Homo sapiens: one gene and its partners. The protein of the gene in region 3 purifies or fractionates together with the protein of the main gene of each other region. This does not show direct contact. Each region holds a gene or a part of one and is shown on either strand. Other genes may lie near its edges.

Evidence for each region.
Region 1: the proteins of ARMC12 (region 3) and PTPRG purify together in Homo sapiens (affinity purification with mass spectrometry; one large-scale study listed by BioGRID and IntAct). This does not show direct contact.
Region 2: the proteins of ARMC12 (region 3) and FBLN1 purify together in Homo sapiens (affinity purification with mass spectrometry, with the first as the bait; one large-scale study listed by BioGRID). This does not show direct contact.
Region 4: the proteins of ARMC12 (region 3) and DSG1 purify together in Homo sapiens (affinity purification with mass spectrometry, with the first as the bait; one large-scale study listed by BioGRID). This does not show direct contact.
Region 5: the proteins of ARMC12 (region 3) and CORO1C purify together in Homo sapiens (affinity purification with mass spectrometry, with the first as the bait; one large-scale study listed by BioGRID). This does not show direct contact.
Region 6: the proteins of ARMC12 (region 3) and MYH10 purify together in Homo sapiens (affinity purification with mass spectrometry, with the first as the bait; one large-scale study listed by BioGRID). This does not show direct contact.
Region 7: the proteins of ARMC12 (region 3) and HBA1 purify together in Homo sapiens (affinity purification with mass spectrometry, with the first as the bait; one large-scale study listed by BioGRID). This does not show direct contact.

Annotation. Positions count from the first base shown.
Region 1 is NC_000003.12:61,568,071-61,571,570, reverse strand, and holds part of PTPRG (receptor-type tyrosine-protein phosphatase gamma isoform 1 precursor), read right to left. Parts: intron 1-3,500.
Region 2 is NC_000022.11:45,526,883-45,530,382, reverse strand, and holds part of FBLN1 (fibulin-1 isoform D precursor), read right to left. Parts: intron 2,537-3,500; coding exon 2,374-2,536; intron 1-2,373. UniProt on the Homo sapiens protein: Incorporated into fibronectin-containing matrix fibers. May play a role in cell adhesion and migration along protein fibers within the extracellular matrix (ECM).
Region 3 is NC_000006.12:35,740,032-35,743,531, forward strand, and holds part of ARMC12 (armadillo repeat-containing protein 12), read left to right. Parts: intron 1-3,500. UniProt on the Homo sapiens protein: Essential for male fertility and sperm mitochondrial sheath formation. Required for proper mitochondrial elongation and coiling along the flagellum during the formation of the mitochondrial sheath.
Region 4 is NC_000018.10:31,324,660-31,328,159, reverse strand, and holds part of DSG1 (desmoglein-1 preproprotein), read right to left. Parts: intron 1,580-3,500; coding exon 1,544-1,579; intron 1,287-1,543; coding exon 1,155-1,286; intron 1-1,154. UniProt on the Homo sapiens protein: Component of intercellular desmosome junctions. Involved in the interaction of plaque proteins and intermediate filaments mediating cell-cell adhesion.
Region 5 is NC_000012.12:108,658,519-108,662,018, forward strand, and holds part of CORO1C (coronin-1C), read right to left. Parts: intron 402-3,500; coding exon 220-401; intron 1-219. UniProt on the Homo sapiens protein: Plays a role in directed cell migration by regulating the activation and subcellular location of RAC1. Increases the presence of activated RAC1 at the leading edge of migrating cells.
Region 6 is NC_000017.11:8,620,726-8,624,225, reverse strand, and holds part of MYH10 (myosin-10), read left to right. Parts: intron 1-948; 5' UTR 949-979; coding exon 980-1,324; intron 1,325-3,500. UniProt on the Homo sapiens protein: Cellular myosin that appears to play a role in cytokinesis, cell shape, and specialized functions such as secretion and capping. Involved with LARP6 in the stabilization of type I collagen mRNAs for CO1A1 and CO1A2.
Region 7 is NC_000016.10:175,223-178,022, forward strand, and holds HBA1 (hemoglobin subunit alpha), read left to right. Parts: upstream 1-1,457; 5' UTR 1,458-1,494; coding exon 1,495-1,589; intron 1,590-1,706; coding exon 1,707-1,911; intron 1,912-2,060; coding exon 2,061-2,189; 3' UTR 2,190-2,300; downstream 2,301-2,800. UniProt on the Homo sapiens protein: Involved in oxygen transport from the lung to the various peripheral tissues.

The DNA of each region.
Region 1 (3,500 bases), on a different chromosome or scaffold from region 3:
TTGCTGAAAGGTCATCTCTTCAACGTAACCAAATAAAATCCTATACTAATTGCATTACTTACTTATTTAATTGTAGCAAGTACAGGAAGACACCTTTATTCCACCCAGTGTTCATGGCACTTGCTTATATGGGAAAAGTAACAGGGTGAAATACATAAAAAGCTAGATCTTTCAATTGGCCCTCCTGTGCAATTAGGAAAAATAGTTTCCATACTCTCTTCAAAAAGCAAATGGTCTGAAATAAAATTTAAAAAAAATCCTGAGCAATGATTAGAGAAACATATTACAGTCACCGCCCCCCACCGCTCCCCGCGCCTTGCTACCCCGGTGACCTTGGACCTACCTTCTTCAACTTTAGTTTCCTAACCCTACAGTGGAAATAATCATGGTTCATACTTCCAGGGATGATTAAAAGCATATAAAATGCTCAAGCACGGGGCATAGATCACATGTGCTTGGTAAGCGTAGGCTATTATAATTACTATTCCCATTTTATAGATTAAAAGGGTGAGGCCCATTTGCCCAAGGTAAATGCTGTAATGAACTAAGAATTTCAACCCAGGTCTCTGTGGTTTTGGTGTGGATTCTGAATAAGAGATATGTATATCTGAAACTCCCAGAGCCCCAGCGCCACCCAACCCCACTTCCGTAAGATGTTGGGTAACCACCCTTAGCTACCCACAGACAGAGCTAAGCCTCCACACTTACTGAAGAGAAACGCTTCTGGAAAAGTGTCATTTTAAAAACAGGTAGAACTCATTTATAAATAACCACCGCTTTGTAAATAAATCCTTTTGACAATTCTTAAAAAGTTCTCGAGACAACCTTAAAAAGTCAGTAATATTTCCTCACTAATCTGGACTATGCTTTTATGCTTGGTCAATTGCTTATGGCTGTGTCCCCTTATCCAAATCATTCCCAATTAATGAACAGATCTGATTTAAGTGCACTGCAGGATTCATGAGGCAGCAATGCTATGAAAACTCAAATACCTCTTAGATGTATATTGTAACTAGTATGAATTCCTCAAAAGTATATCCACTGCATTATACAACACCCTGCTTCACTCACTTAGAAAGACAGTATCACAGACCCAAAAATAAGACCAGTTGTCCTATTTTCTTACATGGAAGTGTTACATATTCCATGAACTATGCTTTCATTTTTTTCTTTTTTAGTTGCTAGAATTCAGCAGCCAACTGTGTCACTTTGCTACTCCCCAAAAATAGCTAAACTGAGTAGTTTAAAATCACATTTTGTTGTTTGGCCAGAAAAATATCATGCTGATTTCAGTCTGCAAAAAAAAAAAAGAAAAGATTAGAGGGTACGAGGTGTGCATCAGTGTTTGGTTCTCTCTCATATGCTCTGTAGCTCTGAATCCATGAACATATAGAGACAGGACATCAATGTGTTCAAGTGTCACACAAGTGTAAAATAAAAGCAAACACCCAACTACTGTTTGCTTCCCATCAGTGGAGCCAAATTGAATCCCAGTAATGAGTAACCTATTTCCCTCCATTACCACACTGTCCATAAAGCCTGAGAAGAGGAATTAACATCTGAGGGTGCAGGACTAGGCGACTCTTTCTACACAGGGATTTGGAAGACTTATGAGACACATTTTAAGCCCACAGAAAGCATTTTTCCCACTTTAAGCTGAGAAAGCAGAGACCTCCTTTGCAATGTGGGCAAGGTGATATCTCAGACTTCATGAGGACTTTCTCATTTATTTAAACCTCAAAATGTAACCTGTTAGTAATCTTACATAGAATGTCCCCATGCTGATCCCTACTCCTCCTCACCCTCAACAGCAAAGACAGATACAAAAACCCATCACGTATGTTTATACAATTTTTCAAAAAGTTGTCTATACATACAGTTGTCCTTTTCAGTTCCACCGTCCGCTTTCCATACACTCCTATCCAAATCTCTTAAGAACACTTAAAAACGGTGGCCAGGAGCAATGGCTCAGGCCTGTAATCCTAGCACTTTGGGAAGTTGAGGTAGGAGGATCACTTGAGGTCAGGAGTTTAAGACCAGCCTGGGCAACACAGGGAGAGACCCGGTCTCTATAAAAATAAACATATAAAACTTTTGATTTAAAAAAATGGTTATTGAGCACTTACTGTTTACCATGCACAGCACTAAGTCCTTATATACATTCTCATTCAAGCCTCACAAAGACTTTAGGAGTTAGGCTTCTATCACCACCCCATTTCACAGAGGAAGAAAAAAATAATGAGGCACAGAGAGGGTATGTAACTTTTCTAAGGTAGCACGGCTAGCAATGGCACAGGTAGGCTGGCTCCAGAGGCCATATTCTTACCTATTTTGCTATGTTCTGTATAACTCTCAATAGCCACCTAGTTTAGAAAACAAATAGAAAAGCATTAACAAGTTCCAGGCTCCTAAAAGATTTTTCTTCCTGCTACATGCTGACAAAATAGTATGGCAACTCTCATCAACTGGCTGACACATGAAGTTTTCATTCAATGTGTAAGTTACCTCCATCCCCACACCCACCACAAGTACAAGTGAAACACTACCCAATTCCGTTTGGGAGGCTTCCAAAACAGAAACCAGGCACATATAGAAACCTCATCAGCTGTCATTCCTCTTCCTATCCCTGGAAGCACTTAAAACGAATCTTTTTTTTTTTTTTTGAGACGGAGTCTTGCTCTGTCGCACAGGCTGCAGTGCAGTGGTGCAATCTCAACTCACTGCAACCTCTGCCTCCTGGGTTCAAGCAATTCTCCCGCCTCAGCCTCCCGAGTAGCTGGGACTACAGGTGTGCACCACCATGCCCAGCTAATTTTTGTATTTTTAGAAGAGACAGGGTTTCACTATATTGGCCAGGATGGTCTCAATCTCTTGACCTCATGTTCCGTCCGCCTGGGCCTCCCAAAATGCTGGAATTACAGGCATGAGCCACCATGCCAGGCCAAAAAAAAAATTTTTTTTACAGTTGTATTAAGGGCTGCAATCATAAAAACCTTAGGCCTGCATAGATCCAGCAAGCTATCTCACACAGAATATATTTTTCTGTCAAAACACCAAATATCTTGCCACAAATGATACCAGGTGAAATGGTCCCTCCAATTATAGTTGTCCCAATAGAAGGGGACAATCACTCAAGAAGCCCTCTAGCTACTTAAAGCAATCTTGCACAGCCATCACTTATACCTAACAATCCTTTTCATACTGAGTTAACCACAAATTTATCTGTTCTACATCTCAATCATCACAGACTTTCCTGACAGTGAAATTTACCTGTATTACTTTAAGACATCTTTTAAAGAGACATTAACAATCCCATGTTCTTAGAAATTTGCAACAGGCAAATTGTAGGGAAAAGCAAGGAGACGTAAATACAGGTTTCTGGAATATACTTATCCTTTTTATTGATTTTGTTGGTTACAACTCCACATAAACACAATACCAAAAATAAGTCAAAGCCAAGTCCGATAACTCTTTTTTACACAAGTATAGTTGATTTTTTA
Region 2 (3,500 bases), on a different chromosome or scaffold from region 3:
CTGGGGCAAGGACTGAAGCAGATAAAAGACGGAGAGATAAAACATCTAACATCTGGAGCTGCAGAAAAGCCCAGAGACTGCTCACGCTGCAGACATAAATCAGTGAAAATCCACCCCCGAGATGCAGGAGAAATCCTCCACCAGCAGGAATGGTTTGGGTTTGTTTAAAGTGAAAATGTCGTCTCTGATTTCAAAAGCCAAGGAATGAGGCAGAATGCGGCCCCAATCCCTCTTGATGACTGTAACATCTGAAATCATCTCAGTGGCATCCATGGGGCCCTGGACTTGAAAAACTAAGAACAATAAGTGAAAGATGAGTCCCGGGTGACCCGGGTCCTCTGTGACCAGGGGCCCTACAGCCTGGACTTGAAAACCTAAGAACAAGAAGTGAAAGGTTCCGTGTCACCCAGGACCCTACAGCCATTACCTTGACTTAGAGACTACAGGTCTGAGGGTTCTTCCCTTTCGCCCCTTCCGGCACCTCCCCACCTCTTTATTTATTTTATTATTTTTTTTGAGACTGAGTCTCGTTCTGTCACCCAGGCTGGAATGCAATGGCGCCATCTCGGCTCACTGCAACCTCCGCCTCCCAGGTTCAAGCGATTCTCCCTGCCTCAGCCTCCCAAGTAGCTGGGATTACAGGCGCCCGCCACCACGCCCAGCTAATTTTTGTATTTTTAGTAGAGACAGGGTTTCCCCATGTTGGCCAGGCTAGTCTCGAACTCCTGACCTCAGGTGATCCGCCTGCCTCGGCCTCCCAAAGTGCTGGGATTACAGGCGTGAGCCACCGTGCCCAGCTCACACCTCTTTTATTTTTTAAGAGAGTGGGGGCAAAGCTCAGAGAGAGGAGGGAACAGGCCGAAAACTACACAGCAAGCTTGGCCCAGGCGGAGTCCTGCCTTCTTCCAGGTTAATTCTGTTACAGCACAAGAAACCGTGGCCTAAGTGTAAGAGGCTACTGGACAGCCACAAAGTCTCCTGAACCCTGTAACTGAACCACACAGAAATGCAGGGCGAGGACACAGAACGGGGGGGCACACAGCTGAGAGCGCTCTTGAAGCTGCTCTTGGGGTCACATGCCCCTTTGCTGAGTAAGTGTCTATGATTTGACAGAGCATAGCCAGCTATTAGCCAGCGATGGCCCCCAGCTGCTCGCCCATACATCGTCAGCTCCAGATGGAGAGGGCACTGGCCAGGAGGTGGAAGGCCAGGCTCTCCCTCCTCCACGTGTCGGCTGTGCGATCTTCAGCATCAGACCCTCACCCAAGAAGTGGGAGCAAGGCCAGCCACCCATGCTGCCCCGGGCAGCTGAAGGGACAAGGGCAGATGGTGAGGGCAGACATTTATGGGGCCAGGTGCTCTACCCAACCCTTGACACCCAATCTCGCACTCCATCCTCCCAGCACCTGATGAAGTAGGACTGCAACTATCCCCACTTCCCAGATGAGGGGACCAAGGTACACATTAGGACCCGGATGGGAGCACAGATTTGTCCGATCCCAGACTCCAAGCACTCAGCGTCACTCCAGGACAGCGGCTTTCAGATAAGGTCACAAACATGAATGGCTCCGACAACCGGAGTTAGTCCGTGCTGAGTTAAGGCAATGGTGACACGGATGCACGTGTTACCTGTAATGGTTCATCGTAAGTGTCAATTGGGCTGGGGTATGGTACTCAAATATTTAGTCAAACACTAGCCTGGATGTTGCTGTGAAGCTATATTTTAGAGATTAATATTGGCCAGGCACGATGGCTCACACCTGTAATCCTAGCACTTTGGGAAGCTGAGGCAGGTGGATTACCTGAGGTCAGGAGTTCCAGATCAGCCTGGCCAACATGGTGAAACCCCATCCCTACTAAAAATACAAAAATTAGCCAGGTGTGGTAGTGTACACCTGTAATCCCAGCTACTCGGGAGGCTGAGGCACAAGAATCACTTGAACCCGGGAGGCGGAGGTTGCCGTGAGCCAAGATCACACCACTGCACTGCACTCCAGCCTGGGTGACAGAGAGAGATTCTGTCTCAAAAAAAAAAAGAGATTAACATGTAAGTCTGTTGATGCTGAGAAAAGCAGATCATCTTCATACCATGGGTGGGCCTCACTCAATCAGCAGAAGGCCTTCAGAGAAAAAAGACTGGCCTCCCCGGGAAAGGCGGCGTTCTGCCAGCACACTGCCTTTGAACTCCAGCTGCAATGCCCCTCCTTCCCTGGGGCTCCAGCCTGAAGGCCTGCCCTGCAGATTTTGGACTTGCCAGCCCCACGATCACATGAGCCAAGTCCTTAAAATCTCTCTCTCTCCACTCTCGCTCTATATACACATCCCGGAGAACCTTAATACACTGCTCATTAGGGAAGGAAGGGGGAAAGTTACCCGTTTCTTGGAGGCCCCCGACATCCAAATCTCCGGTCTCCTGGCTCTTGACACAGCATGCCTGGAAGACCTGTCCACACTGGTAGCCAACCATGAGGCTGTACTCGCAGCTCTGGCCCTGGGCCTGGGCCGCCCTCCCCAGCAGACAGCAATGGCAGCACCTCTGCAAACACAGGTGGAGATCCCAGATGGAGGAGCGGGCAGACAGCCCAGCGGGGTCCACGAGAGGCCTCAGGGGAGGCCTCTCTGAGCCCCCTGTCCACACAACCTGTAGAGTGATGACTCAAGTCTGGCTTAGATACCACTTCTAAATGTCAGCAACAAATAGCAAAGCAAGGCCATCCCCCTACTCCAAATCATCTAGGTCCCAGTTTTGAAAGGAAGCTTAAAGGGCCTGGCATCCACCTCCCCTCCCCACCCCAACATGCAATTGCACCCCTCAACATCCCTGCCCCGCCCAGAGACCACCCGGCTCTGCTCGCACACATCCAGGAAGAGGGAGCTTCTTATAGCACCATGCACCAGCTCCAAAGTTCTGTTCCTTTTGCATGGTCTGAGATTTCTCTACCATGCCCGGAAAAATGACACACATGCATGCTGCCTCTCCGTTTTTGAGTTAGAGGGGTTCTGGCAGCAGGAATTGCACCGTGCATTTGAAAGCACAGGAACTTCAAGACGAGTCATCAAGCAAGGTCAAAGGACAGGGTGGCTGTCTGCCACCTGGGCCCAGGTCCCAATAGTTACTTCCAAGTCCCTGTGGCCTCACACCTGAGTCCCAGAAGCAACATTTGCCCTGACACACGAAAAGCCCTGCTTCAGTCTTTATTAAGTGGTTATCCTAAGAGGAGCACAGAACTTTCTAAACAGTCCCCAGCAGGAGCCAGGAGGTGTAGCTTTGCCTCAGTTATGTGGCACTGATGGGTCTTCCAGGCTGCTTATTCTACGCCCTCCGCTGCCAGAAAGTGTAGGGAGCATCAGTCACCTCATCCATCTTTTGGGGTGTGAGTAATCCTTCCTGGAAACACAAGTCGCTCATCTGCCAGAGAGATCTGTTCCCACTCCTGCTAGAATGTTCTGTGCTTTTTCCACACCTCTCAAGTCTGGGGACATGGGCACAGCTGTGTGCC
Region 3 (3,500 bases):
GGTTTGCAGTAACAAAGGACACTGCTGTCACTCAGGAAATTCCAAAGGTTTCAGGAGCTCTGTTCCTGGAACTAGGGACAAAGATCAGATGTATTTTTTATACTCTATCCCCTGGGCCTGTGTTAATCAGAGGTTGGTGTCATGGCCACGGATAACTTCTCCATTACTCCATAGACAAAATGTAAAACACCACATGTCACTTCCCCCTTTCCCTGCTATCATACCCCCAAACTTACAGTATCCACACCCATCCTCCCTGCTTTCCTGCTGCTGCCATGAAAAAAATGGCTTTCTCCTGGTCTGTGGCCAGTGATAGTCTCAATCCTGCCTCCCACCCCTTCCTTAAGGGCCTCTCTGATTGCTTACGCTCCGCTCCCCCATCAGCATGCAGTAGGCTCCAACCCCTCCCATCTTACAAAGCAAAACCAAAAAAGCCTCTCCCTTGACCTCCACATCTCTTCCTGGCAAATAGTCTATCTCTCCCAAATTAAAAACAAATAAAATATGTAAAACTTGCAAATATTGTATATGTGTAAGTTAGAAGGAATAACAATAAAACAGAACATGCCCAGGCCAAGAAATAGAGCACAGCCCCCTCCCACATCTTGGCTGCCTCCCCCACCAGAGGCAGTCATTACCCTGCATTTTGTTTAGCAGTTCCAAATTTTCTTTGTAGTTTTACCATATATGTATGTATCCTTGCATATTCTAGCAGGGCATAGCAGATAATAAAGAGGTAAAATATAGTCTGGTATGTTTTTAAGCTTCATGTACATGGAAGTAGATGGTTTCTATTCTGTGGTTGGCCTTTTCTCCCTGCTACGTGGAGAGATTCATCCTTATTGGGCAGCTCTGCTTCCTTCTGGTTTTTTTTTTTTTTTTTTTTGAGACAGGGTCTCGTTCTGTCGCCCAGGCTGGAGTGCAGTGGCGTGATCTTGGCTCACTGCAGCCTTGACTTCTCAGGCTCAAGCAGTCCTCCCACCTCAGCTCCCCTAGTAGCTGGGAGTACGGGTGTGCTCAGTGAGTACGGGAGTACTATGTTTCTCAGGCTGGCCTTGAACTCCTGGGCTCAAGCAATTCTCCCCCCTGGGTCTCTTTCACCGCTCTGTGGTGGTCTCTTTCGTGAATACTCTGCCACTTGCCCGTTGTTAGGCATTTGCATTGTTTCCAGGTGCTTGTCACACTCACATTGTGCTGTGAACATTCCTGTGTTCGTCTCCCTTGTGTGCCTGAGAGAGGATTCTAGGGTGTGTATGCAGGAGTGGAATGGTTTGGTCAAAGGGTATGCCCAACTTTTCCAGGAGGGAGGTATCCATTTTCACCCCACCAGCCCTGCACGAGTGTTCTATTGTGTCATAACCTAACGTTTGATAATTTCACATTTTAATTTTTTTTTTTTTTGAGACAGAGTCTTGCTCTGTTGCCCAGGCTGGAGTGCAGTGGCACGATCTCGGCTCACTACAACCTCTGCCTCCCAGGTTCAAGCAATTCTTGTGCCTCAGCTTCCAGAGTAGCTGGAATCACAGGCGTGCGCGCACCACCATGCCTGGCTAATTTTTTTGTATTTTAGTAAAGACAGGGTTTCACCATGTTGGCCAGGCTGGTCTCAAACTCCTGGCCTCAAGTGATCTGCCTGCCTCGGCCTCCCAAACTGCTGGGATTACAGACATGAGCCACCATGCGTGGTCCACATTTTAATTTTTGGCATCAAACTTTTTTGGGGAAAAAATTCTCTTTACATGTATCCTCAAAATATGCACAACTATGATATATCAATAAAAGCAAACACACAAAAGAATAAAAATAGATTGAGAAACAAACAGAAAAAAATACCTAGAGAGATCTCTGCTTGCTGCCTCATCCCTCAGCCTTCTCAAGTGCAGTGGTACGATCTTGGCTTACTGCAACCTCCACCTCCAGGACTCAAGTGATCCTCCCACCTCAACCTCCCTAGTAGCTAGGATTACAGGCATGCACCAATATGCCCGGCTAATTTTTGTATTTTTTTAGAGGTGGGGTTTTGCCATGTTGTTCAGGCTGGTCTCGAACTCCTGAGCTCAAGTGATCCACCTGCCTCAGCCTCCCAAAGTGCTGGGATTGCAGGTGTCAGTCACCACACCTGGTCAGGCTGTGATTCTCAAGCATATTATAATCACCTGGAGAGCTTGTTAAAAGCAAAGATTTTGGCTGGGCGCAGTGGTTCAAGCCTGTAATCCCAGCACTTTGGGAGGCTGAGGTGGGCAGATCACCTGAGGTCAGTTCGAGACCAGCCTAGCCAACATGGAGAAACCCCGTCTCTACTAAAAATACAAAAATTAGCCGGACGTGGTGGCGGGCACCTGTAATCCCAGCTATCCGGGAGGCTGAGGCAGGAGAATCACTTGAACCCGGGAGGCAGAGGCTTGCAGTGAGCCAAGATCACGCCACTGCACTCCAGCCTGGGCCACAGAACGAGACTCTGTCTCAAAAAAAAAAAAAAAAAAAAAAAAGCCCAGGGAGTTCAGTTCAACAGGAGAACTTTGTTTTTCACAAATCCCCCAGGAAATTCTGATGCAGGCGGCCTGAGTCCCACTCTTCCTTTTTTTCCCCAGTGTCTTTATGCTGAGGGCCTGACCCCTGGTCTCTTTTCAGGTGAAAGTAGTTACTCCTTGATCTCAATTTCCATCTAGCTGTGCCCTTCTGGATCTCTGCAGCCTGTGGGCTCCCCTGCCTTCCCCATGGGCAGCTGCTACTAGGCATATCCACTTAGATGCCCTCCAAGTTCTCTAACCCAACATATCCAAAATGGAGCTCACCCCATTCCCTGAATCAGCCCACTCTCTCCAGAGGGCTCTTAGGCCATCAGGCCCTTTGGGTCTGCCTCAAGGCTCTCAGCATAAAGTGCGTGATTGGCCATGGGCTGCACCTCCTTGCCCTAACCCCAGCCACGTACAATGCATGCTTTATGCTCTCACATGCCCCCTTGCTGCTGTTCCCTCGTTCTGAAACCCTGTCCCAGACTTGCTGACTCCAACCTGTCCTGCGGGTCGCCACGGCTTTTGAGGGGTGGGGGAAGGGAAGGGCAGGTACTGATGGGAATGCTCACTTCCACTCCAGGACTCTTGCTTACTTCTTACATGGCTCATAAAGGTGCAGCTCGTGAGGTTACCTGTCTTTGGTAATGCCTCTAGGTCCAAGCATCTTACTTTTTTTTTTTTTTTTTGAGACGGAGTTTCGCTCTTGTTGCCAAGGCTGGAGTGCAATGGCGCGATCTCAGCTCACCGCAACCTCCGCCTCCCGGGTTCAAGTGATTCTCCTGCCTCAGCCTCCCGAGTAGCTGGGATTACAGGCATGTGCCACCACGTTCCGCTGATTTTTTGTTTTTGTAGTGGAGATGGGGTTTCTCCATGTTGGTCAGGCTGATCCTGAACTCCCAAGCTCAGGTGATCTGCCCACCTTGGCCTCCCAAAGTGCTGGGATTAAAGGCGTGAGCCACTGCGTCCTGCCCGCATCTTGCATCC
Region 4 (3,500 bases), on a different chromosome or scaffold from region 3:
GAGGGAGCAAATAGAGTTCTATATTTGATATACGACAGCTTTCTTGAGAGTTGTTGCATGTGATGACCTTGTTATTTAGGAAATGTTGTCAATGGAGATTATTTTCCTAGATAAGAGTAACAATTACAGCTCTAATATTTTCAATGGTAACTGACAATGTAATCAAAGAAATTCGGTTTCTGCTTCTATGAAACATGAAAAAATGCGAAATATCACCCTACTATATCTAAGTCTATGCAATCATCATGCATGACTTCATTCATTCAACAGTTAAAATTTGATCTTGTATTATTTGCAGGGTCTGTGCTTGCACTGGAGCTACAGAAGGAAACTCTTTGCCCTCTTAAGGAGTTTATCAATGTTGTCATCATGCAACTTTAATCTTCAATTTGTTTTAAATGTAAAGTTTTCGAAGAAAGTAGATTTATTTAGGTGACAAGAGTTATCTGGGTTTGAGTGGAAGCTCTGAATTCTGAAAATGGGAAGGGTGTATTAGCAGAAAAGGAAGGAGACCACGCGAATAAATGGTTATAGAAACCAGAACTCTTTCTTTGAAATAAAATATTGTTTGGCTGTAAACAAATCCTAGTGGGGAGTATTTGTGAGTGTCTGTGTGGATGAATGTGTATATTCGTGTGTGTATCTGTGGACGTGTACATCTGTATGTTCATGAATTTGTGGGGGGTGTTTCTGAGTGTGTGTGTATGTAGAAAGGAAGATATGGAAAAATGAATAGAAAAGGGGTATGAGAGAGGGCACCTTGTGAATGTTAATAAACAAACAAAAAAGTAGGAATTCAATTCTAATACATTGTGAGGCAAAAAGAGCACACATTGAAGTAATTCCTTTGAATGTGCTGAAAGCCAAATTCTTTATTAAAATAATGATCTTTTTTCATCTGGAGTTTGGGATAACACATGATCATGTGTATGCATTTCACCAATGAGGTGAGTCAACGTTTGCCTGTTTCTCTGAGCACCTGCATTTCTTAATTTCTCCTTATGAGTTTCAGTTTTCATCATCTAGGTGACTATAGTTCTGTTCTGTATCGTAGCTTCTCGGTGAGACATGTTCATGAAATATTTAGCAGACAGTTTCTTTTGAAACTTTATCCATTCTGATTTTCAATGTTATGCTTTGGAGTTGATACCTACTTTGGCGATTGGGTTCCTCTTTGAGTTGTCTTCACCTTCACGACAGGCTGCTGCGAACTTGATCCATTCACGTTTCTGCCTTCGGATTGAATGCCATTTGATGGTGCCATTTTTAGTGTTATAATCTCTTACCTTAAATGACAGCAATAAAGAAATGGTATATATTAATTTGAATTCGTAATTCAAATTCCACTGAGATTTTTGGAAGAGGTTATAATCTCAGAAATAGAGGATGTTTAATTGGGAAAATTGGTAATTTTGGTAATCTATTAATTTTAGCATTATATGAACTTGACTTATGAGAATACATTTTCTTCAGAAAACATATTGTTATTCTCAAATTATTTTCTTGTTTAAAAATTTGGAAAAATGGATTTGTTATATATTACCTGGATTCGGAATTCACTGTTAACTTCTACCACCACCTGTAAAAAATAAGATAATCACACTAGTTATTTTTTAATTAAATGCTTTAAAATTTATATTATCCAGTTACTTTAAAAACAACATGAAACCATAGGCTTGTGAGTCATTAAAATTATTTTATCAGCCAAATAGCAGGTGGATTTGGTTTATGTCTTGGGTCTGATGATGATGCTAAGAATTTTTGTTTTTACCTTTCAATTTACTCTTCTTTTTATTACTATTATTTTGTACTTGTATTTCTCCCTAAATAAGAAATTTTTAACTTTTAATTGAATTTATTCAGAATTGCAAAGTATGAAAACTTTATTTGTATAACTGATATAAGAAAATTATAGTTTACATTTAAAAATACTAACAGTAGTAATTTAAAAATATAAAAAAGTTCTTTTTATAGTTAATTTTAATTGTAGCATTAAAGAAAATATGAACTTAATGTCTCTAAGTATCTACTTTAAAAAAATTGCCACAATAGATAATTCAGAAAATAAGTATTTATGATCAATATGAGAAGTATAAAAAGATAATGTTTTTATTATGAGAATTACATATCCATTGTGTATCTAATATTAATAATTATGATTGTTATTACTCTTATAATTTGTTAAATAATAGCTAGGTATTAGGTTATGTATTTATGTAAATCTATGCACTTAATCTTTACAACAAATACATGTGGTCACCACTAATACTATCTCCATTTTACAGATGAGGAAATTGAGTCTTGGATATTAACCTATGGCTAAATATAATTCAATACAATTTAGCATAAATTTTCACTTGAGCTGTGGGTTTTACAATAAAATATGAGATAGCCTATTCCCTCAAGTAAATTACTACTAAGAAAAGCATGCTACAAAGAATTTATATTGCAACTTCAAGAACTCAAAAAATTCTGATTTTAAACTAACCTATTATCCTTGTGATTGGTGATATTTACATACGACAATAGGAATACAGCATGAAGAAAAAAAAAAGAAAAGTAAATGGCCCAAATTTTAAAACATGTAACTGAAATGTTATCTGTAGAGCCCATCTTGGGTGCAGAACTGAAATGATGAAATGGTGTTCATGTAAATGCATGCTCCTTGCTGCCTGTGAATTTATGAACACTTTTCCCTCTCTCTTGTTTGTGAGTGTGGGATGGGAGATGGGCATACCTTATTTGTGTGTTTGAAAGCCATTTCTTCATAGCTACAGAATTGTGCATGGATCTGTTATCTGTTATTGCGCTTCCCTTACTGCATTGGAGCGCCAGTGCTTGCTGTTTGTTTTGGAAAGCTATGCAGATGACTAAGAAATCTTTCCAGCTTTATGAAGCTGGGTCACTCTTTTTCCCATGAGAGACAATTTGGGCAGAAGACCAAGTAGCTTTCACCATACAGTCAGACTCTCAACTGGATTTGTAATCTAAAAACCGCCAAGTCTGCTTAAAAATGTGGTGGGTTGGTGTAAGCTTATTTTCTGTTGCTCAGAGTCTAGAATAAACTCTGATACAAAGTCACTCTTGGACTTTCAAAGGCAAAATAGTGAAATCTGACTCTTGATAGAGTTGGAAAATCTTCAACGTATTTCCCCAATTCTCTGAACTTTAGTTTTCTCACTTGTAAAATGACAAGAGTAGACTAAATTTTATACAGGTAACTTTCCAGCTGTAATATTAAATGCCTGTGTGCAGTAGGAAAATATTGAAGTATTTAGATGTGAGAAGAGCATGATAAAATTGTGGTTTTAAAGCTAACTCTGACAACAGTTGGTAGGACTAGTGGGAAGAGGCAGTGATTACAGACGGTGAGCAGTTGAGGGTCTCTGTATCAAAGCAGACTGGAGGTGAGAAGGAGGTACGCTGGAGCAGAGACAGAGGGAATGGATGGGGAAAGATCAAGGGATACTGCAGCATAGCATTGGCAGGGCTTGAGAACA
Region 5 (3,500 bases), on a different chromosome or scaffold from region 3:
TACAAAGTGAGAGACTTGAGTAAAAGCTGGAAAATTTACAACTCTGGAGAGAAGCACAACTGGGGAGACAGAAGCCTTTATAAGCCTTCTCTTATTCACAGTTGGTGTCTACACACAACAGGGTCCCACTGACCAGTACCGCTGCCTGCCTTAAAAAGCAGAAAGCTCACACTCACTCAAGTGCTCCAACTACTGAGTTTTCATCCTAGGAATACTCACAGCAACAATCTCTTGTTTCCTGGGATCAATGACTCTCACTTTCTTGTCTTTGGAAGCTGTGCAGATCAGACTGCCATTCCGGTTCCAGCTCACATTGTAAATCATGTCTGAATGCATATCGTCCAAGTTTATAAGGGCTTCCCCTGTTCCCACATTCCAGATGATAATGGCATTATCACAGCCTAAAACAGGCAAAACCATCAGAGATTAGAAGATTAGAAACACCTATGTAACACACTCAGAAAACTACAGATACAGTGAGAATACACATATGTATATGCAGAGAGAGAGAGAGAGAAAGAGAGAGAGAGAAAAGATGCGGCTGATTGTCAGAGGCCCTACCAGAGGCCCTACTTACTAACAGCGTTAAAAACTGAAGTGACAAAGGAAAAAGTTTGTATAAAAGAAATAAAAGTGTTAAAGTAAAAACACAACTTGTTAAGTTTGGGTTCATATGAAACAATCAACCAAACAAAAACAAAGAACCACACCAAAACAGAACCCTATTTTCTTTAAAGAGTTAACTGGGCTGGTAGACCCAAGTGACTTCAAGTTTCCCTTTCTAGTAAAACAAGCATCAGGGTGTTGCTGCCAGCTTTGGGAGACCCCTATTAGGCAAATACGCTCCTTCCTTTTAAAGAAAACTTTGATTTTCCCCTGCTATACAATTAGTACATGTATACTATAGAGAACATATATAAACAAAAGGAAAAAAAATCACTTTTAATCCCACCACTCAGAGAGAAGATCATTATTACTTTTTTGATGTTTCTTTCCGAAAGATATTTCTGTGCACATACATAAATTATTTTACATACAGAGATGGGTTCATACACTTTACACATGGGCTGCTTTCTGCACTTGGTGGTAGGCTGTGACCCTTTTCACGTGCCAAATAAACTAAAAGTAAAAGGTTTAAATGACTGTTTAGGGCACTCAACAAAAACTCTGGGTGGCAGGTTATTCAAATCAGTGAGACTCTAAGACACAGCTTTGGGATATTAAAGATGGTACAACAGTGGAAGGGAAAAGCCAAGAGTAAGGCCTGTTTGCTCACAACAGATCTGTACCTTTAAATGAAGAGAAAAATAGGCCAAGACTGCTCTGATCATGGTGAGAAGCCCAAACTGTAATCAAGTAGCTACATAGATTCAGAAACGGATTCTGAAAGAAGCCCACAATGTCAACTCATTCACCATCTCAGCTCACCAACTCCTTCCTTCCTTCAAGGGTCTGCCCCACGCCTCCAGGCCCCTTTAAAAAGAGGCAGCATGTGTTGCTCCTAGGATGTTAGTTCAAGGATGAAGCAAAATACGGGAAGGACATCCTAGAGGTGGATTCTTGCCAACAAAGCAATTTGGAAATCATTTAGAAAAAATAGTCACTAACATCCAGGATACTTAAGTTACCTAAGGGTTAGAAGTAGGAAACTGGCCGGGCACGGTGGCTCACGCCTGTAATCCCAGCACCCTGGGAGGCCGAGGCGGGCAGATCACCTGAGGTCAGGAGTTGGAGACCAGCCTGACCAACATGGAGAAACCCTGTCTCTACTAAAAATACAACATTAGCCAGGTGTGGTGGCACATGCCTGTAGTCCCAGCTACTTGGGAGGCTGAGGCAGGAGAATCGCTTGAACTCAGGAGGCGGAGGTTGCGGTGAGCTGAGATCATGCCATTGCACTCCAGCCTGAGCAACAAGAGCGAAACTCCATCTCAAAAAAAAAAAAAAAAAAAAAAGAAGTAGGAAACTGGAGAAAAAAACTACACAACAGTAACAAAAGTTGAAGCTAAACTCTGGGATGGACAATTGAACCTTCCTCTGCCTTCTTCCCTATAGGCAAACAGGTAACTTCAGCCCCGGCAGCTGGATCATATAGCCTAAAAATATGCAGAACACGACAATCACCCATTCTCCTTCACATGTAAAAGGGAGAATGCAGACCAGTCTGTTGCTGCTGCCCTGTATTGAGCCTTGATGAGAAAGGTAGCAGGGAATTTTCCATGAAGGAATTCCAGCTCTGGAATTTTTTTCCTCTCCTTAATCAGACTGAGGTTCTGAGAGAACATCAAAAATGATTCCCAAGTATAGTCGATGGTGATTATAAAAAACATGGCATCTTTTTTGAAAAGTGGGCCTTAGTTTCAATAGTTACTTGGCATTATAATTTTTTATTTAACTCACTATGAGTCATAAACATTGTGTATTCCCAGTTAAAAACTGAACTGCCCCTCCTCCTTTTTACTGGTGAGGGGAAAGACCTTTAAAAATCCTATCTCTAACATTAGTATCACTTTTTAAATAAACCACTTTTATTAAGGTATAACTTACATACAATACAATGCACCCATTTTAAGTATATATTTGCTAAGTTTCAACAAATGTATAAACTCATGTAGCCACTACTATGATCAAGATACAGAATATTTCCATCACCCCACAAAGTTCCCTCATGCTCTCTGTATTGCTTTCATAAAAGAAAATGAAATCTCCAATTTTAGATAAAGGAAAAGATTTCTGTACAACACCAGTGTCCAGAAATAGGGGACTTATCAAGTAAAATGAGGTATATCCAGAAAATGGATTAGTATGAAGTCATTAAAAATAGGAAGAGAGCTTAATGGCACGTGAAAAGGGTCACAGCCTACCACCAAGTGCAGAAAGCAGCCCATGTGTAAAGTGTATGAACCCATCTCTGTATGTAAAATAATTTATGTATGTGCACAGAAATATCTTTCGGAAAGAAACATCAAAAAAGTAATAATGATCTTCTCTCTGAGTGGTGGGATTAAAAGTGATTTTTTTTTCCTTTTGTTTATATATGTTCTCTACAGTATACATGTACTAATTGTATAGCAGGGGAAAATCAAAGTTTTCTTTAAAAGGAAGGAGTGTATTTGCCTAATAGGGGTCTCCCAAAGCTGGCAGCAACACCACAGAGGGAACACAGGGCTTCTGGCTCCCAACAAAGTACACCTTCTACCATATCAGAAATAACCAAAACTATGGTTCATGGAGGGCCCTGGCAGGAACCATGAAACCTGCTGAAATTATAGCAGGAAATTCATAGCTTTCCTCAGGTTGTCGAAATGGCCTTGAAACACACACACGTGCACACACACACAAGTATGTATGTGGGCTGGGGGAGCAGTGCACCCCAATACTCTTCACCATGGTTTCCTAATAATCTGCTTTAAAACCATATAGCACACAACCAAAACACATTTGCTTCCCCCCACTCAGAGAGCCACAAGAGTGGAAGACAAGGGGAGGACCGCTGAGCT
Region 6 (3,500 bases), on a different chromosome or scaffold from region 3:
TGCTAGCCCTTTGTGAGCCAATGGTAAATGGGTGCTAAATAAAACAACTAGGTCTTGAGATACATTAATTGTAAATGTCACAGAACCAGTACTTTCCTCAATGTGGCTAAGATAGTTGATGGTTCCTTTTTCTTCTGCACTGGTCAGACCATATCTGGGCTATGATGTTTGCTTCTGGGCCACACACTTTAGAGGGAAGACAAGCAGCATGTTGGAGTCTGTTTAGGCGAGAGATCCGGCAGGGGAAGGAGTCTTGGTGAATGAGGGGTGGAGGAGCTGCAGGATGGGAATAGAGGCCTGAACTGCTACCATGACATATTCAAAAGGCTGCCGTGTGAAGCCAAGTTATGCTTGTCTTTTGTGGTCCCAGTTGATCACATTAAGACCTCATGGGGCCATAGAAAAGCTAGAGGGAGACTGATTTGGGTTATTCATAAGAAGAACTTTAAGTCTGTTATCTGAGGGTAGAATGAGAGGCATGTTTTAGATTCTTTAGATTCTTTACTCTTCTGACAATCATGTGTTTTTGTAGCTGTTTCCTTGTGGTCATATTAATTCTGGTACCACTTCATGAACCTTTTATTACCCATCTTTGTTTTCTTTTTTTTTTTCCCTTCTTAACTCCCTGTTTAATTTGTGGTGAGGGTGAAAGAGGAGATAAAGAAAAAAAAGGGTCAACTTGTAACTTTGCCTTTTCTTTTCTTTTCTTTTCTTTTTTTTGCCCTCAGTAACTGAGGGCAAACCCATCAGACAACCAGAGCCATAATTTGTGGTCACCGCTGAAATTTACCTTGGAAACTCGGTTAGTATGGCTGTGAAGAGGTATACCCCAGCTCCTTAACACAGAGTTAATGCTTAATCTAAGGTTTTAAGTTTCTTAGAAAAGAAAAACGTGTACATTCTTTTGTTTCTTAAACATCTAATTTTGCCCTCCTCCTCTTCTCTTAGAGGCAATTGCTTTTGGATCGTTCCATTTACAATGGCGCAGAGAACTGGACTCGAGGATCCAGAGAGGTATCTCTTTGTGGACAGGGCTGTCATCTACAACCCTGCCACTCAAGCTGATTGGACAGCTAAAAAGCTAGTGTGGATTCCATCAGAACGCCATGGTTTTGAGGCAGCTAGTATCAAAGAAGAACGGGGAGATGAAGTTATGGTGGAGTTGGCAGAGAATGGAAAGAAAGCAATGGTCAACAAAGATGATATTCAGAAGATGAACCCACCTAAGTTTTCCAAGGTGGAGGATATGGCAGAATTGACATGCTTGAATGAAGCTTCCGTTTTACATAATCTGAAGGATCGCTACTATTCAGGACTAATCTATGTAAGTATTTCTTCCAAATAATCATGTGAAGTGGTAGCTAGGAATTAATGTAAATTATACATCTTGTCATAATCAAATGAGAATGTGGAATACCCAAACTCTCTGTTTAACATTTCTATTTCTCTTTAAGATAGAAAGATTTGTTGCTTGCTTACCCATGTCTTGCTTTTCTTTGAATCTTAACACATTAAGTTTAAATAATACAGGCTGCAATTACATATAATAAAATGGCATTTGAAGACTTTTGTAGTGGTCTTCTGGAGCATAATAAGGTGGGAGAGAGCATGTAACAGGAAGACCAGAAGGTTTAATAAGGTAAAGAGAGTTGCATTAATTGGACGCAGACAGCAAAACGGTCAAAAATCAAGTGCATACCCAAGAGTAAAGTGGAGGGGCTGTAAGCTGAGAAATTTCTGTGGACAGCATGAACAGCTTCACTGGATGTAGTAGGGAAGTAGGAAAGATGAATGCTGAGGTTTTTAAGAGGAAACAATTAGGGTAAGATTGAGGCTGGCTGGGGTCGTCCTGTGGTTAGCAGCTGACATGAATGTTGGAGTCACCGACTTTGTCACTGACCATGTAGAAGAAGTTATTGAAAATCATAAGGGATAATGTAGAGAGGGATAATGTAGAGAGGAAAAATGTAAGCCAGATACTAAAAGAAAAATCTAAAATGACAAAATAGGTTTGAGGGAATGGTAGACAGAGGTGGCAATGATTTGAAGAAGGTGGCACGTGTGGGACTTAAACTGACGATGAAGGGAAGTAGGAAGAAAAGTTGATGGTCGTGGTTTGAAATCGGAAAAGGGGTGTTGAATTTTACACAAGGAGTGTGCTACTGAAGGTCATGAATAATTCAAAACTTCAGTAAATCAGAGCTAGTTTTCCTACAGAATTAGTTTAAGGAATATTTATTAAGCACCCCCTGTGCTCTAGGTGCTGGGGATAGTACAGTGAAGAAGACAGGCCAGGTCTCTCTGCCTTTCTGAAATGTCCAATGAGGAAATGAAACAAGGCTATGGAGAGAGTAAGTAGGAGAATGGCTTTCTCCAGCGGGTCAGTTAAGGGCTGTTTGTGAAGGTAGCATTTGAGCTGGAGTCTGACTGGTGGGAGGCAGCTAGCCACGAGAAAAGCTGAGAAAAGAATGATTCATTCATGACCTTTGCCAGAGTAGTTTCAACCAAGCCTGATAGATCTCCCTTATTTTCTTCTCTATGAGGTAGGAGAGTAAGAGGCCACAGGGTTGGAACGGTGGCTTGAGGAGAATGGAAAGGCTTAGGAACAACCCTTTTCCAATTTCAGACTAAGCCAGGGATAAGAAAGCGACTGGAGAGTGGCGTTGAGAGTCCAGCTGAGATTGAATAACCACGTGTAGGGTGACCGCAATTTTGCCTGGCTATGTGATTTTGCCAGACCATGGGATTGTCTCAGGTCTGTGAGTGTGGGGGGCTTTGGATCTGCATGGCTTCCACAGTGAGAGGGGGATTCAGTGGCCGTCTTTGGAGTCCTCGTTCGGTAGGAATGGGAGTCTGGGTGGGAGGGGCTGATGGATCAAGGCCTGGAAGTTTTCAGAATGTTGAGGAACAGGGATCATGGGGTGAAGGAGTGAGAAAACTGCAAAATTAAGAGGTTATGGTCAGATTGTAATGTCGACATGTAAGATTTGAGAGGTTGATCAGTTTCAGATGAAGCCCATTGCAATAAATTGTGCAGGTATGGAAATGTGATGTCACCATCAAAAACTGTGCAGTGTGAAGAGGAGCCAGGCTGCTTTTCTGCCAGCCTTCACCTTAATTTCCCACACTGGCAGCTGGAGGTAGCTGCAAAGGGTGCTAAGTAGAAAAGGAATGAAAGAAAGGACAGGTGTTTTTTTGTTGTTTTTGTTTTTGTTTTGCAGCCATTCCACATAATTCAGAGATTTTACAGTTATCTCTTACTGAGTTTGTTGGATTTTTTTCCAACTTAACTCATGGACAACCTGAGTGAACTTCTGAGTTTCTTTTCAAAGCACAGCCTCCTTCTACAGGAGAATCTGAGTTTTTCTCAAAGTCTCAAGGTCACACAGAGGTCGGGGTTTGGGAGGATCATATCTTCAATTAGTTGGGTGGAGAAAGGGTTCTTACCTAAGGTTCTAGTTGGAGAACTTGACTCCAAAGAAGTCTGTGTCGTTAAGAGG
Region 7 (2,800 bases), on a different chromosome or scaffold from region 3:
GCAGGGCCTGAGTAAGGGCCTGGGGAGACAGGGCAGGGAGCAGGCTGAAGGGTGCTGACCTGATGCACTCCTCAAAGCAAGATCTTCTGCCAGACCCCCAGGAAATGACTTATCAGTGATTTCTCAGGCTGTTTTCTCCTCAGTACCATCCCCCCAAAAAACATCACTTTTCATGCACAGGGATGCACCCACTGGCACTCCTGCACCTCCCACCCTTCCCCAGAAGTCCACCCCTTCCTTCCTCACCCTGCAGGAGCTGGCCAGCCTCATCACCCCAACATCTCCCCACCTCCATTCTCCAACCACAGGGCCCTTGTCTCCTCTGTCCTTTCCCCTCCCCGAGCCAAGCCTCCTCCCTCCTCCACCTCCTCCACCTAATACATATCCTTAAGTCTCACCTCCTCCAGGAAGCCCTCAGACTAACCCTGGTCACCTTGAATGCCTCGTCCACACCTCCAGACTTCCTCAGGGCCTGTGATGAGGTCTGCACCTCTGTGTGTACTTGTGTGATGGTTAGAGGACTGCCTACCTCCCAGAGGAGGTTGAATGCTCCAGCCGGTTCCAGCTATTGCTTTGTTTACCTGTTTAACCAGTATTTACCTAGCAAGTCTTCCATCAGATAGCATTTGGAGAGCTGGGGGTGTCACAGTGAACCACGACCTCTAGGCCAGTGGGAGAGTCAGTCACACAAACTGTGAGTCCATGACTTGGGGCTTAGCCAGCACCCACCACCCCACGCGCCACCCCACAACCCCGGGTAGAGGAGTCTGAATCTGGAGCCGCCCCCAGCCCAGCCCCGTGCTTTTTGCGTCCTGGTGTTTATTCCTTCCCGGTGCCTGTCACTCAAGCACACTAGTGACTATCGCCAGAGGGAAAGGGAGCTGCAGGAAGCGAGGCTGGAGAGCAGGAGGGGCTCTGCGCAGAAATTCTTTTGAGTTCCTATGGGCCAGGGCGTCCGGGTGCGCGCATTCCTCTCCGCCCCAGGATTGGGCGAAGCCTCCCGGCTCGCACTCGCTCGCCCGTGTGTTCCCCGATCCCGCTGGAGTCGATGCGCGTCCAGCGCGTGCCAGGCCGGGGCGGGGGTGCGGGCTGACTTTCTCCCTCGCTAGGGACGCTCCGGCGCCCGAAAGGAAAGGGTGGCGCTGCGCTCCGGGGTGCACGAGCCGACAGCGCCCGACCCCAACGGGCCGGCCCCGCCAGCGCCGCTACCGCCCTGCCCCCGGGCGAGCGGGATGGGCGGGAGTGGAGTGGCGGGTGGAGGGTGGAGACGTCCTGGCCCCCGCCCCGCGTGCACCCCCAGGGGAGGCCGAGCCCGCCGCCCGGCCCCGCGCAGGCCCCGCCCGGGACTCCCCTGCGGTCCAGGCCGCGCCCCGGGCTCCGCGCCAGCCAATGAGCGCCGCCCGGCCGGGCGTGCCCCCGCGCCCCAAGCATAAACCCTGGCGCGCTCGCGGCCCGGCACTCTTCTGGTCCCCACAGACTCAGAGAGAACCCACCATGGTGCTGTCTCCTGCCGACAAGACCAACGTCAAGGCCGCCTGGGGTAAGGTCGGCGCGCACGCTGGCGAGTATGGTGCGGAGGCCCTGGAGAGGTGAGGCTCCCTCCCCTGCTCCGACCCGGGCTCCTCGCCCGCCCGGACCCACAGGCCACCCTCAACCGTCCTGGCCCCGGACCCAAACCCCACCCCTCACTCTGCTTCTCCCCGCAGGATGTTCCTGTCCTTCCCCACCACCAAGACCTACTTCCCGCACTTCGACCTGAGCCACGGCTCTGCCCAGGTTAAGGGCCACGGCAAGAAGGTGGCCGACGCGCTGACCAACGCCGTGGCGCACGTGGACGACATGCCCAACGCGCTGTCCGCCCTGAGCGACCTGCACGCGCACAAGCTTCGGGTGGACCCGGTCAACTTCAAGGTGAGCGGCGGGCCGGGAGCGATCTGGGTCGAGGGGCGAGATGGCGCCTTCCTCGCAGGGCAGAGGATCACGCGGGTTGCGGGAGGTGTAGCGCAGGCGGCGGCTGCGGGCCTGGGCCCTCGGCCCCACTGACCCTCTTCTCTGCACAGCTCCTAAGCCACTGCCTGCTGGTGACCCTGGCCGCCCACCTCCCCGCCGAGTTCACCCCTGCGGTGCACGCCTCCCTGGACAAGTTCCTGGCTTCTGTGAGCACCGTGCTGACCTCCAAATACCGTTAAGCTGGAGCCTCGGTGGCCATGCTTCTTGCCCCTTGGGCCTCCCCCCAGCCCCTCCTCCCCTTCCTGCACCCGTACCCCCGTGGTCTTTGAATAAAGTCTGAGTGGGCGGCAGCCTGTGTGTGCCTGAGTTTTTTCCCTCAGCAAACGTGCCAGGCATGGGCGTGGACAGCAGCTGGGACACACATGGCTAGAACCTCTCTGCAGCTGGATAGGGTAGGAAAAGGCAGGGGCGGGAGGAGGGGATGGAGGAGGGAAAGTGGAGCCACCGCGAAGTCCAGCTGGAAAAACGCTGGACCCTAGAGTGCTTTGAGGATGCATTTGCTCTTTCCCGAGTTTTATTCCCAGACTTTTCAGATTCAATGCAGGTTTGCTGAAATAATGAATTTATCCATCTTTACGTTTCTGGGCACTCTTGTGCCAAGAACTGGCTGGCTTTCTGCCTGGGACGTCACTGGTTTCCCAGAGGTCCTCCCACATATGGGTGGTGGGTAGGTCAGAGAAGTCCCACTCCAGCATGGCTGCATTGATCCCCCATCGTTCCCACTAGTCTCCGTAAAACCTCCCAGATACAGGCACAGTCTAGATGAAATCAGGGGTGCGGGGTGCAACTG